2 linked regions of the Homo sapiens genome follow. The protein of the gene in region 2 interacts with the protein of the main gene of each other region in a biochemical or structural test. Each region holds a gene or a part of one and is shown on either strand. Other genes may lie near its edges.

What was found. Proteins that work in one complex are often made in the same cells at the same time.
Region 1: the proteins of ATG4B (region 2) and SLC27A4 form a complex in vitro, tested with the Homo sapiens proteins (one study listed by BioGRID).

The regions. Positions count from the first base shown.
Region 1 is NC_000009.12:128,343,500-128,350,528, reverse strand, and holds part of SLC27A4 (long-chain fatty acid transport protein 4), read right to left. Parts: intron 5,375-7,029; coding exon 4,980-5,374; intron 1,985-4,979; coding exon 1,826-1,984; intron 218-1,825; coding exon 148-217; intron 46-147; coding exon 1-45. UniProt on the Homo sapiens protein: Mediates the levels of long-chain fatty acids (LCFA) in the cell by facilitating their transport across cell membranes. Appears to be the principal fatty acid transporter in small intestinal enterocytes.
Region 2 is NC_000002.12:241,661,673-241,668,701, reverse strand, and holds part of ATG4B (cysteine protease ATG4B), read right to left. Parts: intron 2,058-7,029; coding exon 1,864-2,057; intron 560-1,863; coding exon 481-559; intron 163-480; coding exon 17-162; intron 1-16. UniProt on the Homo sapiens protein: Cysteine protease that plays a key role in autophagy by mediating both proteolytic activation and delipidation of ATG8 family proteins. Required for canonical autophagy (macroautophagy), non-canonical autophagy as well as for mitophagy.

The DNA of each region.
Region 1 (7,029 bases), on a different chromosome or scaffold from region 2:
CGCATGCGGAATCCATAGTACACCAGGGCAGCCATGCGGTAATACCTGGGAAGGCACAGGGCCAAGGGCTGAGCGGGCCCTAGAAAGGCAGAAGGAGGCTCCCCAGCCCTGCCTGTGCCTACCCCACCCTGGGCACCTGCCCCTTACCTGCTGTGCACCACGATGGCGGCCTTGGGCAGCCCTGTGGTGCCGGATGTGTAGATGTAGAACAGTTTATCTAAAGAAAACAGACGCGAGTGGCTGTCGGGGGCAGCTCAGGGCTGGGCAAAGGGTCACACAAATGGACACCTGCAGGTGTGCACCCTTCAACACCTGTTCCCATCACACCCTTGCTAGGAAGCCTGTTCTGATAACCTCAGATACCATTCAGCTCTAACACCGGCATCCATTCCAACAAATATTTCCTGGGCCCTTGCTCTGTGCTAGGCCCTGGTGGAGAGAGACATCAGTGAGTAAGATGGGCACGGGCCTGGCCCTCTTGGCAGTCACAGCTCAGTGGAACAGTCAGATGAGGACACAGGCAATTCCAATACTAAGCAACAAGTGCCGAGGGAGGGCACAGGACCTGTTGAAACCCAGTAGCCACATTTGGCCCAAGCTTGCAGGAGGGGAGGTGGTGCCAGGTGGGCTTCACGATAAAGGTGACACCTGCCCCAAGTCATAGAGCACAGGGAGGCATTAGCTGCAGGAAGTGGGGTGTTGAGGTAGCTTCCGCACTGCTGAGCATTGATCTGTCCCACTCTGCAGCCCTCGACAGGGATTGCCACGTTAGAGTTTCTATGTGAGGCTCGGCCCTACCAGACTTGAGGTTCCCTGGAGGTCAGGAACTCCACAGGCAGACTCCACGTGTTTAGAATGCCTGCCGAGACACCTCATGCTCTCTGCCTGCCTGCTGTTTGCCAGCCCTAGGCACTATGAGGGCACCAGAGCAACCAGCCAGAGTCCCTGCCCTCAAGCAGCTGACAAATGCACCCAAGAGACCAGATTCACATACAAGAGAGAAGTTAAACAGTGCTGATGACAATGACCAGTTACTGAGCCCCTCCTGCCACACCCTAGCTTCAGGACTGGCCCCACTGTATTTTTTTCAACCCTCAAAGATACCCCATAGAGTAGGTTCTGCTACTGTCCCCAGTTTTATGGCTGTGGGAACTGAGGCTCCAAGGGCAGGGCAGGTGTCAGGGTTCACACAAAGGAAGCAGTAGAACCAGGATATAAACTCGGATCTGACTCGACAGCCCAAGCTCTGAGCCACCAGGCAATGTGGCTTCACAGGAAAGAGAATGAGAAGAGCAGAAGAACCAGGTAGGCTACAGTATAAAAGAAGAGGGGTGAGAGGCTCAGGAAGGCTGCCTGGAGGTGGGGTCAGGGAGGCAGCACAGTGCTGGGAGAGGATCACAGCTGGAGATCCTGAAGTGTCCTGCACTGAAGAGGCACTTGATGAATATACAAAGGGTCTTGCTCCTCACCCACCCTCCCACCCAACCCCAACCAAAGCCCAGACCAGGCAGGTTCCCGGAGTCCACAGGATTCTGCCCATTAGGCATCAATGAAGGCTTGTTCAACAAATCACACTGGACTTTGTGAGCTCCTGTGTTCTCAGCCCTGTATCTGGCACTGATACACATCAGCTCATGTCACCTTCACAGTAACCCTGGAGTGGCCCAGGTTTACTGTCACCATTTTCCAGATGGAAAAAGGGAGGTGACGTGACATGTTCCAGGCACATGGCAAGTTTCCAGAAAAGCCTCCTTCTGGCACTGAGGCCAGTGCTCTGTCCAGGGCCTGTGTGAGAGCCCCTCTATGGGGAGGGGATGGAGCCCACCTGTGAAGCCCTTGTCAGGGCAACTGGGAAGGTGCTTGGGAGCATCTTTCAGCAGAGGGTCCAGGTGTTCTGTGCTTGGAGGCACCGCACCGGGCTCCCAGGAGCCAGAGCAGAAGAGGCTGAGCGAGGGGTCCAGGCTGGCATGGACCTCACAGATGGCTGTGGGGAGACAGGGCAGTCAGCAGGCAGGCCAGAAAACCCCATGTTCCCAGGGACCTCTGCTCCCAGCAGGGCTGGCCATGTTGCTGAGGATACTGGCTGGGCAGGAGGAGAGGCAGTGAAGCAACTGGGCCTTCAGTGTTGACAGGGGCACCGGCAATGGTTCTATTAGCCATGGGCTAACCACAGAGTAGGTCCGCTTTACCTGCATTCCCTGGTCTCACAGCCCTGGGAAGGAGGGACCATTGACAGCCCCTCTTACAGATGAGAAGATTGACGCTCCGAGAATGAGAGGACCTGCTCACAGCTAGAATGTGCTGGACCTGGCGTGCAATGCCAGCTCTACCTCACATCAAGGTCTGGGCTCCCCCCCACTATCCCGCACTACTTACTCTGTGGTGCACCAGATAGAAGGGAGGAGTGCGGGTCAGAGGCCAGTGGCCCTCCATCCCCTTCCGAGAGCGGGAACCTGCTTTCAGGCTCCCCTGCGCACTGCACGGACATCACATAACCCCCACCCCCGGGCATGGAGCAGCGCTGGTCGGCTTGGCCCCACCTTCCTGGCTTCCTCTTGATTTGCCCAACCCTCTCTTCTTCCCTGGCTGCCTTCTTCCCTCTCCCCTTTCAGCACCATTTTTTTCTTTCCTTTCTTTTTTTTTTTTTTTCTTTTGCTTTTTTTAAATAGAGACAGACAGGGTCTCACTATATTGTCCAGGCAGGTCTTGAACTCCTGGGCTCAAGAGATTCTCCTGCCTTGGCCTCCCAAAGTGCTGGGATTACAGGCATGAGCCACTGTGCCTGGCCCCCTTTCAGCATCTTTTTTTTTTTTTTTTTAAGACAGAGTTTCACTCTGTCGCCCAGGCTGGAGTGCAGTGGCATGATCTCGGCTCACTTGGTTCAAGTGATTCTTGTGCCTCAGCCTCCTGAGTAGCCAAGATTACAGGCGTGTGCCACCACACCTGGCTAATTTTTGTATTTTTAGTAAAAACAGGGTTTCACCATGTTGGCCAGTCTAGTCTTTAACTCTCGAGCTCAGGTGACCTGCCCTCCTTGGCCTCCAAAAGTGCTGGGATTACAGGCGTGAGCCACCATGCCAGGCCCCCTTTCAGCATCCTAATGACTTCCCTATTCATTATCCCACAACCACAACAGTGTGGGGAGAAAAAACAGAGTGCTGTGATCAAGCTGAAGATCAAACCCCAGTTCTACCACTTACTAACTGTGTGATCTTGGGTGAGCTCCTCACAAACCCCTCTGAACTCCAGGCTCATCATCCATAAAACCAAGATCCCTACCTCACTCGGTCTTTATAGAGATTAGAGCTGCTCTTGGAAAGCAGCAACCTCAGTACTTTGCAGGTGCCCAATGTGGCAGCAAATAAAATGCAGGCTCTGTGAGGAAAGTGGGGAATTAATTTTGTTCCCATTTTACAGATGAGCTAGATACGGCCTAATTAGTCACAAGGATGATTACCATTGTACTGAGGGGCCACCTAGCATCAGCCATGTTGCTAGTGCTTCAGGTAAGTATCTTTTTTTTTGACACGTAACCTCTCTCTGTCATCCAGGCTGGAACACAGTGACGTGATCTCGGCTCACTGCAACCTCTGTCTCCTGGGTTCAAGCGATTCTCCTACCTCAGTCTCCCGAGTAGCTGGGACTACAGGTGCGCACCACCATGCTCGGCTAGGTTTTTTTTTGCATTTTTATTAGAGACGGGGTTTCACCATGTTGGCCAGGCTGGTCTCAAACTCCTGATCTCAAAGCTGCCCACCTCGACCTCCTAAAGTGCTGGGATTTACAGGCATGAGCCACCACACCCGGCCTTTTATTTTGTTTTTTTTGAGACAGGGTCTCACTCTGTCTGCCAGGCTAGAGTGAAGTGGCACAATCATCACTCACTGCAGCCTCAACCTCTTAGTCTTAAGTGATCCTCCTGCCTCAGCCTCTGAGTAGCTGGGACTACAGGTCCATGTCACCAAGCCTAGCTAATTTTTTAAAAACTTTTTTTAGGCCGGGCGTGGTGGCTCATGCCTATAATCCCAGCACTTTGGGAGGCCGAGGCGGGTGGATCACGAGGTCAGGGATTGGAGACCAGCCTGACCAACATGGTGAAACCTCGTCTCTACTAAAAATACAAAAAAATTAGCTGGGCGTGGTGGCGGGTGCCTGTAATCTCAGCTACTCAGGAGGCTGAGGCAGGAGAATTGCTTGAACCCGGGAGGTGGAGGTTGCAGTGAGCCGAGATCACGCCACTGCACTCCAGCCTGGGCGACAGAGCAAGACTCTATCTCAAAACAACAACAACAAAAAAAACAAAAAAAAACAAAAAACTTTTTTTAGTAGGCCAGGTGTGGTGGTTCATGCCTATAATCCCAGCACTTTGAGAGGCAGAGGTAGGTGGATCGCTTGAACTCAAGAGTCTGAGACCAGCCTGGGCAACATGGCAAAACTGAGTATCTACAAAAAATGTGAAATTTAGCCAGGCATGGTGGTGCATGTCTGTGGTCCCAGCTATTCAGGAGGCTGAGGTGGAGGGACTGCTTGAGCCTGAGAGGTCAAGGCTGCAGTGAGCTGTGACTGCACCACTGCACTCCAGCCTGGGTGACAGGGCAAGACCCTGTCTCAAAAAAATTTCTTAGTAGAGACAGGGTCTTACTATGTTGCCTAGGCTGGTCTCAAACTCCTGGGCTCAAGGGATCCTCCTGCCTTGGCCTCCCAACATGCTGGGATTACAGCTGTGAGCCACTATGCCCAGTCTGAAGTACCTTTTTGAAAACAGTATGAGGTAGGAACGACGGATGAGGAAACTGAGGCTCAGAGAAATCAGTCCCTTCCCCAGGATCTCGTTTACTCGTGGCACTGCCTAAGCTGTCTGACTCCACTCTGTGCCCTTAACCACTGACCCACACAGCCTTGGCAGGGCTGGAAGGGAGCTGTGGTCTGTGTAAGATCCCATGGGGTTCCTGCTTGTCCCCCGCCCCCTTGGGGCTCACCTGAGGCCATTTCGCTGCCAAAGACAAGGGCCCGTGCGCGCGAGGTGGTGAGGCAGTGGAGCAGAGCATCCCGCCGCAGGTTGGTGTTGATGAGGGCTGCCTCCACACCGAGCTTGGCCATGCCCAGCCATAGGCCCACGAACTCATTGCGGTTCTCCATGAAGATGGCAGCCACATCGCCCGAGGCCAGGCCCCGGGCCTGCAGGAAGTTGGCTACACTGCTTGAGTACTCATCCAGCTGGCGGAAGGTCCAGTGGGTATCTGTGCCCTCGAAGATCAGGGCCGTCTTGTCGGGGTGGCGCCGAACGGTAGAGGCAAACAAAATGGGCACTGTCCGCCGCTCCTGCAGGCACTGTCGCACCTTTGCCTTCACCTTCAGGAGGACCAGGCCGCCACTGTGTGTGAACAAGAGAGGGCGCTGTGTCTGCCATGGTTGGGAGGGAGGGGTCCTGACACCCTACCCCAGGCTGCTGCCTCGCCAGCCTATGCTTCATGAGCCAGACCCCCTACAACACTTCTATCTCCTGGCTCCTGCTGGGAACATGCACTGCCTTACTGATGCCTCTCAATAACACTGAGAGTTCGTATGATTCCCCTCCCCTTACACAGAAGGAAATCAAGGCTCTCGTGGTGCCGTGGCCTGCTCAAAGCTTCATGGATGGAGGGTGGCTGAGCTGAGATTTGAACTCTAGGCCTCTCTGGCTCCAGAGTTCTACTCCTACCCTCTCAGCCTGCTGCTCCAGCAGAAACCTCCTAGGTCTCCAGAGCTTCCTGTAAAAGTCCAAACTCCTTGTTTGGGGCCTCCCACAGTCCAGCTGCTCCCTCGACCCACCATGACCACAGTAAATAATGAATGAGTTTGCTGGTCTGTCCAGTCTTCCTCCCTGTGAGCCTAGCTGGGATAGGCTTCTGTCTTATTCAACACTCTATCCCCTGGGTCCTGTGCCAGGCAGAGTAGATGTTCAATAAGTTTGTGGAATCACTTGGCAACATCCCATTCCTGCCACCTTTGTTTTTTTGTTTTTTTTTTTGAGATGGCGTCACACTCTGTCACCCAGGTTGGAGTGCAGTGATGCAATGTCAGCTCATTGCAACCTCCACTTCCCAGGCTCAAATGATGCTCCCACCTCAGCCTCCCAAGTAGCTGGAACCACAGGTGTGCACCACCATGCCTGGCTAACTTTTTTGTATTTTGGTAGGGACGGGGTTTTGCCATGTTGCCCAGGTTAGTCTCAAACTCCTGAGGTCAAGTGATCCACCCACTTCGGCCTCCCAAAGTGCTAGGATCACAGGTGTGAGCCACTGCGCCCAGCCCTGGACTCCATGCCTTTGTTGCTGATGCTGTGCCTTCTGGTTGGATTCATCTCCTTCCACCACCACTAAGGCGCCTCTCAAGTACAGCCGCTTTTTCTCCAGGAGGCCTTCTCTGATTCCCAGGGTCCTGGCTGGCAGCTGTTTCTCCTTGCTCCATGCTCCCACAGCTACCACCCTTCCTGGTGTGCCACTCCGTGCCTTCTTTTGCAATCAACCAAGATTGACAAATGCTGAGCTGCCTGTGTGGGGTGTGGGTCACTGAACTGGGTGCTGGGACACAGTAGTGAGCAAGGCTGTGCCAGGGTCTCTGCCCACATGGCACTGCCAATTTACAGATGTGCTGTGTCCCTTTCTTTCTCCTGACCAATCTGAGCTTGGCAGATGGGGTCTGCCTTATTCCTCTCTGGACCCCAAAGCTAGCCTGGCACCTAGTAGAGAACAAGCGGGAATAGATATTTCTGGTACAGGATGTCCCTTGGAGCATACCGGGCTTTCTTTGGGGAGCAGGTTATCCCAGACATCTGAGTAGGGGCTCTGCTCTAGAACTCAGTGCCCCCTGTGCCATCTCACACCCCTGCCAACCTGAGGGCAGGGCCTTTCCCCAAAATTCCTCTTTACCCTTTCATAAACTTACAGAGTCCTCAGGACCCCTTGCAGATGTCTCAACACACTTGGTGTTCAATGTACGTCCTAGGCCAAGCCTGCCCAAGGCCTGGGAGCCTCAAGTTAGGGAGAT
Region 2 (7,029 bases):
GGTGGCCGCCACGTACCACAGCGATGGACGGGTCAAGCTCCGCGATGCTCATGCGGCACGGCGGGTGCTGGCAGTGGAAGCTCTCGTCCGGGATGAAGCAGCCATCAGTGGGCTCCACGGCTGGCTGCGTGGTGTGGGGGTCCAGGTAGATGAGCTCCTCACCTGGGAGGATGAGGCAGGTGGGCAGGTGGGTGGCCGAGCCGGCAGAGGAAAGGGACAGAGGAGGCCGCATTTCAGACCCACTGCACCCACATCACACTGAGAAGCAGTGGGCAGGAGGTGGGGAGGGAGCCGAGGGCACCAGACCATCAGGGAAAGGGGCACACAGGAGGCCGCCCGCGACCAGGCTGAAAATGAACCCCAGGGCATGCTGCTTTTCCACCAGTGGCCTCAAGTGGTCACCTGGGGTGTGGTACCTGCTCATGGAATGCCCTTAAAAGGCCCAGGCCCACAGGGACACGGTGGGAACCCTGGACTCACCAACGTAGCCGATGAAGTAGTGGGCGCTGTTGGGCTTCCCTCCGATGACGCCCAGGGACTGGGGCATCATGAAGCAGTGCTGTGGAGGGGCGGGGGACTGAGCACAGGTCCCAGGTGGGAGCAGACGGTCCCCCCACCCACTGCCATAGGGGGCCCAAGGGCCTGCTGAGGCCCAACTGGGTGACACAAGAGGGGACAGGAGGGGACATGGTACCAAAGAGCTTACTGTCCAGGAAAGACCACAGGACATCCCACAGGCACAAGAAACCCAATCTGCAGGCTCAGCTCAGGGAAGCTTCATGTCAGAGGTGGGCTTTGGGGAGGCCGGGAGTGAGGGGGCCTGGCAGGAGATGTGAGCAGGGGTGCGGGAGGTGGCCCTGCTGAGTGCTTTGACCTGACAGGGCAGAAGCGATGGAGACGGGGCCTATGTGTGGGGGCAGCTGAGACCCCACAGGATGGGCAGAAGGCTGGACGGAGGGGCCAAGTTCAGACAACTGAATAATTTTAACAGGAAGCCACATTTCAGTTCCATACAAATGTGACTCCTTGGTCTAAAATTTGAGTTACCTGAAGAAAGGATGGTTTTCCCTTCTGCTTGCTTTTTTTTTTTTTTTATTTGAGATGGAGTCTCACTCTGTCACCCAGGATGGAGTGCAATGGCATGATCTCGGGTCACTGCAAGCTCCGCCTCCTGGGTTCAAGAGATTCTCCTGCCTCAGCCTCCTGTGTAGCTGGGACTACAGGCGCGCACCACCATGCCCGGCTAATTTTTATATTTTTAGTAGAGACAGGGTTTCACCATGTTGGCCAGGCTGGTCTCAGACTCCTGACCTCGTGATCTGCCCGCTTTGCCCTCCCAAAGTGCTGGGATTACAGTCATGAGCCACCGCTCCCCGCCCCCTTTTGCTTTCATGACATGGGGGAGCCTGTGGCTGGAGCTCCTCACACAGCCCTGCCCATCCCCAGGCCCTGCCCACACGTCCCTTCCTCACAGGCCAACCCACCCTCCGAAGGGACCTCAGGCCAAGAGGGCTGTGGGGGAGTGGGGTGGGCATGCCTGGGGCACAGTGGAGACCCGGGAGGGGGCGGGGCTCCCCGTCAGGCCGAGGAGTGGCACCTGGTTCCAAGGACCCCCTGCAAGCGCCTCATGCTTTCATCCTCGACACTCGCCTTGACACTTGCAGAACGAAAGCAGCACGTGCCTACTGATGGACGTGCCTCACGCCCACTCACCCCTTGGGCAACGGTGTAAACCAGGGTTGTTTACCCCTCCCCCGAGAGCCGGCTGCACAAATGGCCACGTGACGACGATGCGCTGAAAGTGACTAAGAACTGGGAGAAGGGGACGGGGACTCAGGGCAAGCGCCGCACGGCAGGACCCACCTTCAGCGTCTCCACGTAGGCCTCGTTGATGTCCGTGAGCCCCAGGCGCAGGGGAATGAGAAGTACCAGGGGTCTCCATGGCGACGGCCTGTTGGTGACCTCAGCTCCGGCAGGGAATCCGTTGCAGTGCCGGTCGGAATCTGCAGGAAACGCAGTGGCGCCTGCACAGGGAACGCTGGTCCTGCACAACCTTCCTAGAAAGGGAGACATGCTTTCACTAACCAAGCAGACCTGTGCAAAAGTGCTCCCACAACAAGCAAGCAAATGATGACTGTGTAACAGAAAAAGGGCGGTACAAAGCCAGGTGCTTACAGTGAAATTCAAACTTGGAAAATATAGAAAAGCGTAAGAAAATTTTTTCATAATCTTGCCACCCAGAGAAAAAAGAAATAGTTTCTATGCATACTTAATTCAAGAGTTTTATTGTGAAATAAAGCACACACACGAAACAGTGCAAGAAAAAGCCACGTGCACTTGAGAGGAAAATCACAGAAGTACCCACGCAGCCTGCCAGCCTGGCTAGTGCCAGCACAGCCAGAACCCGCTCCCTCCGGGCCTCCTCAGCAACGCCTTTCCTCGCTTCCACCCCTTCTGCCTACACACACCCGTGAGTCAATGGTCCGGAGGACACATCAACCGGAGGGTGCGGTGATGGGAGAAGACACTCCGGGAGCATGGAGCATGCCCGGCGTCTAGATCGAGGTTTCTCAACACCACTCCCCACTCAGAGGAGCCAGGCTGATTCCAGGGCCAGGCAGGGAATGTTCAGAGGTGCCTGCAGCATCTGCTTAACCCAGAACATAAGGGAGGGCTCAAAACATAAACGAAAAACGCCAGAACACGGCAAAAGACACCACCAGACTGAGGTGGCCACCGGCCAAAGGTGGAACCGTCAAGCATCAAAAAGATGGACAGTGACAGGTGACAGTGACAGTGACAGGTGACAGTGACTGACAGGTGACAGACAGGTGACAGGTAGCACACTGCACACTAAGTGATGGGAGAAAAGGCGGCTCTTCTCAGAACGCCAACCAATAAACGTGAAAGGAAAGGACAGGCTAGAAAAACCACCATTATCAGGCAGGAGTCACACAGCTCACCAGGACATGCTCAGTGTCACCACTGGATTATTCATTAATTACAAAGGAAAAAAGACACCATCTCCGGGGATCTGACATAGTGTCCCACTGCAGGCCCCGGATGGGAGAGCAGAGGACACTGCCACCCAGAGGCTACTCTCAGCCACAGGCTCAACCCAAGCCCAACTGTGAGGAAGCAGACAAATCCAGCGTGTGGGATGGTCAGCTGACCTGAACTCGTCAAAAATGCCACAAAGCAGCAACAACCACAACAAAGAGGCAGAACCTTCTCAATTAAAGACTAGAAAGACATCACAACTATATACACACAGCACCGGACCCTCAACCAGGAACACAAATCAGCGGCACGGGTTGTTCCCTGGACAGCAAGGGGCCAAGACGGACCCTGGTGAGTCGTGGCGTCACCTCTTTTGTGGTGATGAGGCTGTGTGGCTCTCAGGAACACTCTCATTCGTAGGAGGCTTGCTCATAAAAACCAAGCGTGTCAAAACACAATTGGTGGATCTAGGTGGAGGGTTTGTGGCCATGACTCACTGAACTTTTTTGTAGGACTCAAATTTCTCAAAACAGACAGCTGGAAAACAAGGATTCTGAGACAGAACTTTTTAAATTTCTTTTAGAGACGGGGTCTCACTCTGTCACCCAGGCTGCAGTGCAGTGGTGCAACCACAGCTCACTGCAGCCTCAAACACCTGCACTTAAGCAATCCTCCCGCCTCAGCCTCCCGAGTAGCTGGAACAACAGGTGTGGGCCACTGTGCCCCCTGACTTTTCTTTTTTGAAGCCGATTCTCTGTTGTCCAGGCTGGAGTGCAGTGGCATAATCTCGGTTCACTGCAACCTCCGCCTTCTGGGCTCAAGCAATTCTCCTGCCTCAGCCTCCCCAGTAGCTGGGATTACAGGTGTGTGTCACCACGCCCAGCTAATTTTTGTATTTTTAGTAGAGACGGGGTTTTGCCACATTGGCCGGGCTGGTCTCGAACTCCTGACCTCAAGTGATCTGCTCACCTCAGCCTCCCGAAGTGCTGAGATTACAGACATGAGCCATGTGCCTGGCCTCATTTTTCTATTTCTTATAGAGAGGGAGTTGTCCAGGTTGGTCTCAAGCAATCCTCCAACTCAGCCTCCCTGAGAGGTGCGATTATGGGTAGGAGCTACCACGCCCAGCCTTAAGGGAGTTGTTTGGGTTTCTGTTTGGTTTTTGAGACAGGGTCTTACTGTGTCACCCAGGCTGGAGTGAAGTGGTGCAATCATGTCTCACTGCAGCCTCAACCTCCCAGGCTCATGGGATCCTCCCACCTCAGACTCCCGAGTAGGTGGGACTACAGGTACATGCCCCCATGTCCGGCTAGTTTTTTTGTTTTGTTTTTTTGTAGAGATGAGGTTTTACCATGTTACCTAGGCGGCTGGTCTCAAACTCCTGGACTCAAGCAATCTGCCTGCCTCCACCTCCCAAAGTGCTAGGATTACAGGCGGGAGCCACAGTGCTTAGCCAAGGGAGGGATTTTAACTTTGATTTTTTTAAAACATATATGTTATTGCTTCAAAGAGCCAGTTCTAGTATGTGTTAGTTCTAATAAATTTAATTTTAAAATTTATTTTTAAAATATTTTATAGAATGAGGTCCAGGCACGGTGGCTCACGCCTGTAATCCCAGCACTCTGGGAGGCCAAGGTGGGCAGATCATGAGGTCAGGAGATCAAGACCATCCTGGCCAACATGGTGAAATATGGTGAAACCCCATCTCCACTAAAATACAAAAAATTAGCCAGGCGTGGTGGCATGCACCTGTAGTCTCAGCTACTCAGGAGGCTGAGGCAGGGGAATCACTTGAACCTGGGCAGCGGAAATTGCAGTGAGCCAAGATCGTGCCACCACTGCACTCCAGCCTGGCGACAGAGCAGAACTGTTCCAAAAAAAAAAAAAAAATAGACGTCTGGCTATGTTGCCCAGGCTGGTCTTGAATTCCTGGCTTTAAGCAATCCTCCTGCCTCAGCCTCACAAAGTGCTGGGATTACAAACATGAGCCACTACACCTGGCCTAATACATTTCTTCCTTTAAATCATTAATTTCTGTATTTGTCTTTAATATTATTCTTTGGTTTCTTCAGTTAATTTTGCTTTTTCCGAATTCTTGAGTTGTATGCTTATTTCATTAATTTTCACTTTGTAAAGAACCCATATACTAGTACTGAAGATACACAGGTTTTCTTCTGAGTTCTGTACACATCAGGTTCAGATACATAGTTACGGTCTCTACACTTGACTTTTTTGAGGTTTCACATTTCCAGGCAGCAGGGTTTTGTCCTTTTTTCATTTTATTCCGCATTAGTTTCATAGAAATTCCCAGGCACACTCTGCTGTCACAATCTAGGGTTTGACACGTATCTACTAAACTCTGCCTGTTGTGTTATCTGGGTCCCCTGTAGCTTTGATCTTTCCATAGCTAATCTGTTAATTATTCTGTTTTCTATATATTTTTATTATTTTTTGTTGTTTTGGTTTTTTGAGACACAGTCTTACTGTGTCACACAGGCTGGAGTGCAGTGGCATGATCTCAGCTCACTGTAGCCTCTGCCTCCCAGGTTCAAGCAATTCTCGTGCCTCAGCTTCCCGAGCAGCTGGGATTACGAGGGCGTGCCACCATGCCCAGCTAACTTTTTTTTTAGTAGACATGGGGTTTTACGATGTTGACCAGGCTGGTCTTTAACTCCTGACCTCATGTGATCTACCCACCTTGGCCTCCCGAAGTGCTGGGATTATAGGCGTGAGCCACCGCGCCCGGCCCGCTTTATTGGTTTTGAAGTTGGGATTATAGGCGTGAGCCACCATGCCCGGCCCGCTTTATTGATTTTGAAGTTGGGATTATAGGCGTGAGCCACCGCGCCCGGCCCACTTTATTGGTTTTGAAGTTGGGATTATAGGCGTGAGCCACCGCGCCCGGCCCGCTTTATTGATTTTGAAGTTGGGATTATAGGCGTGAGCCACCATGCCCGGCCCACTTTACTGATTTTGAAGTTATGTTTTGATAGAAAGGCTTCCCGGTGGTGAGTTTCCTGCTGACTGGTGCTTTGTTACCTGCACAGACCCTACTGTCTCAGGAATATGATCGAACACATGAATCGGCTCAAGGGCTGATGCGTAGCTGGGCCGGTTGCTTCTGTGCCTCCAGAGCCCAGCACTGAGTGTGTGACCTACCACGTCACAAACACCCTGCTGTCAACAGGGTGCAACGGGCTTTTGCCTATTCCTGCCACCACCTGAAATTTTCTCGTGTTCTCTTTATATTTTGAACACATTTAAAATTTATATTTCTCTATCAATGACAACTACACAGTACACATACCTACTCTCACCTCATGAAGCCAGGTCTTTTCTCAGAATTCTAAACATTTTCCAGTAGCATTTGGTATGGCACAAAGATGAGATGCCCAGGCCAGTTGAGACTGCCTTTCTTCAAAGCAGCTTAGTAGTGATACTATTATTTGGATGTTTAGAGAAGTTTCCCTTTACTTCTGCAATTTGGAAATATTATCAGGAACATGTATGTTTAAGTACTTCTGATAAAAAAATTTGGGGGTCTTTAGCTCTAAAGACTCAACTCTCACCAACTCAGGGGAATTTTCTCCTACTCCTTCAGTGGCCAACTCTCCCGAAAAGTTCTAATCCACATACTCTGCTCTCAGCTGCCTCTATTTGGCTGCACTGCCTCTCAGAGAGTTGAGTTCCAGCTATTGTGATTCTCCTCCCCACTCTGTTTCTGACTGTGCTTGCTCTGGTATTTACTTTTCTTTCATTGGAGTCATTTGTCCTCACTGCCAGACTGACACGTTTTCCAATCTGTATTTCCTCCCTACATTCAGTGACATTCTGTCTACTGTCGTTAGAAAGGTCTAAGCCCATCAACGTTAAGGACAAGAAGAGCATGCTAAGGATGTCCTGGCTGGCCTTTGACTGGGGGTGGACAGAAGGATGAGTTGCGGGGGGGATGGGTTGGTGGATGGGGACACTGTAGGCAGTAAGGTCTCCCCTTACCCCACAGGCTTCACCTAAAATCTGAGTGGGAAC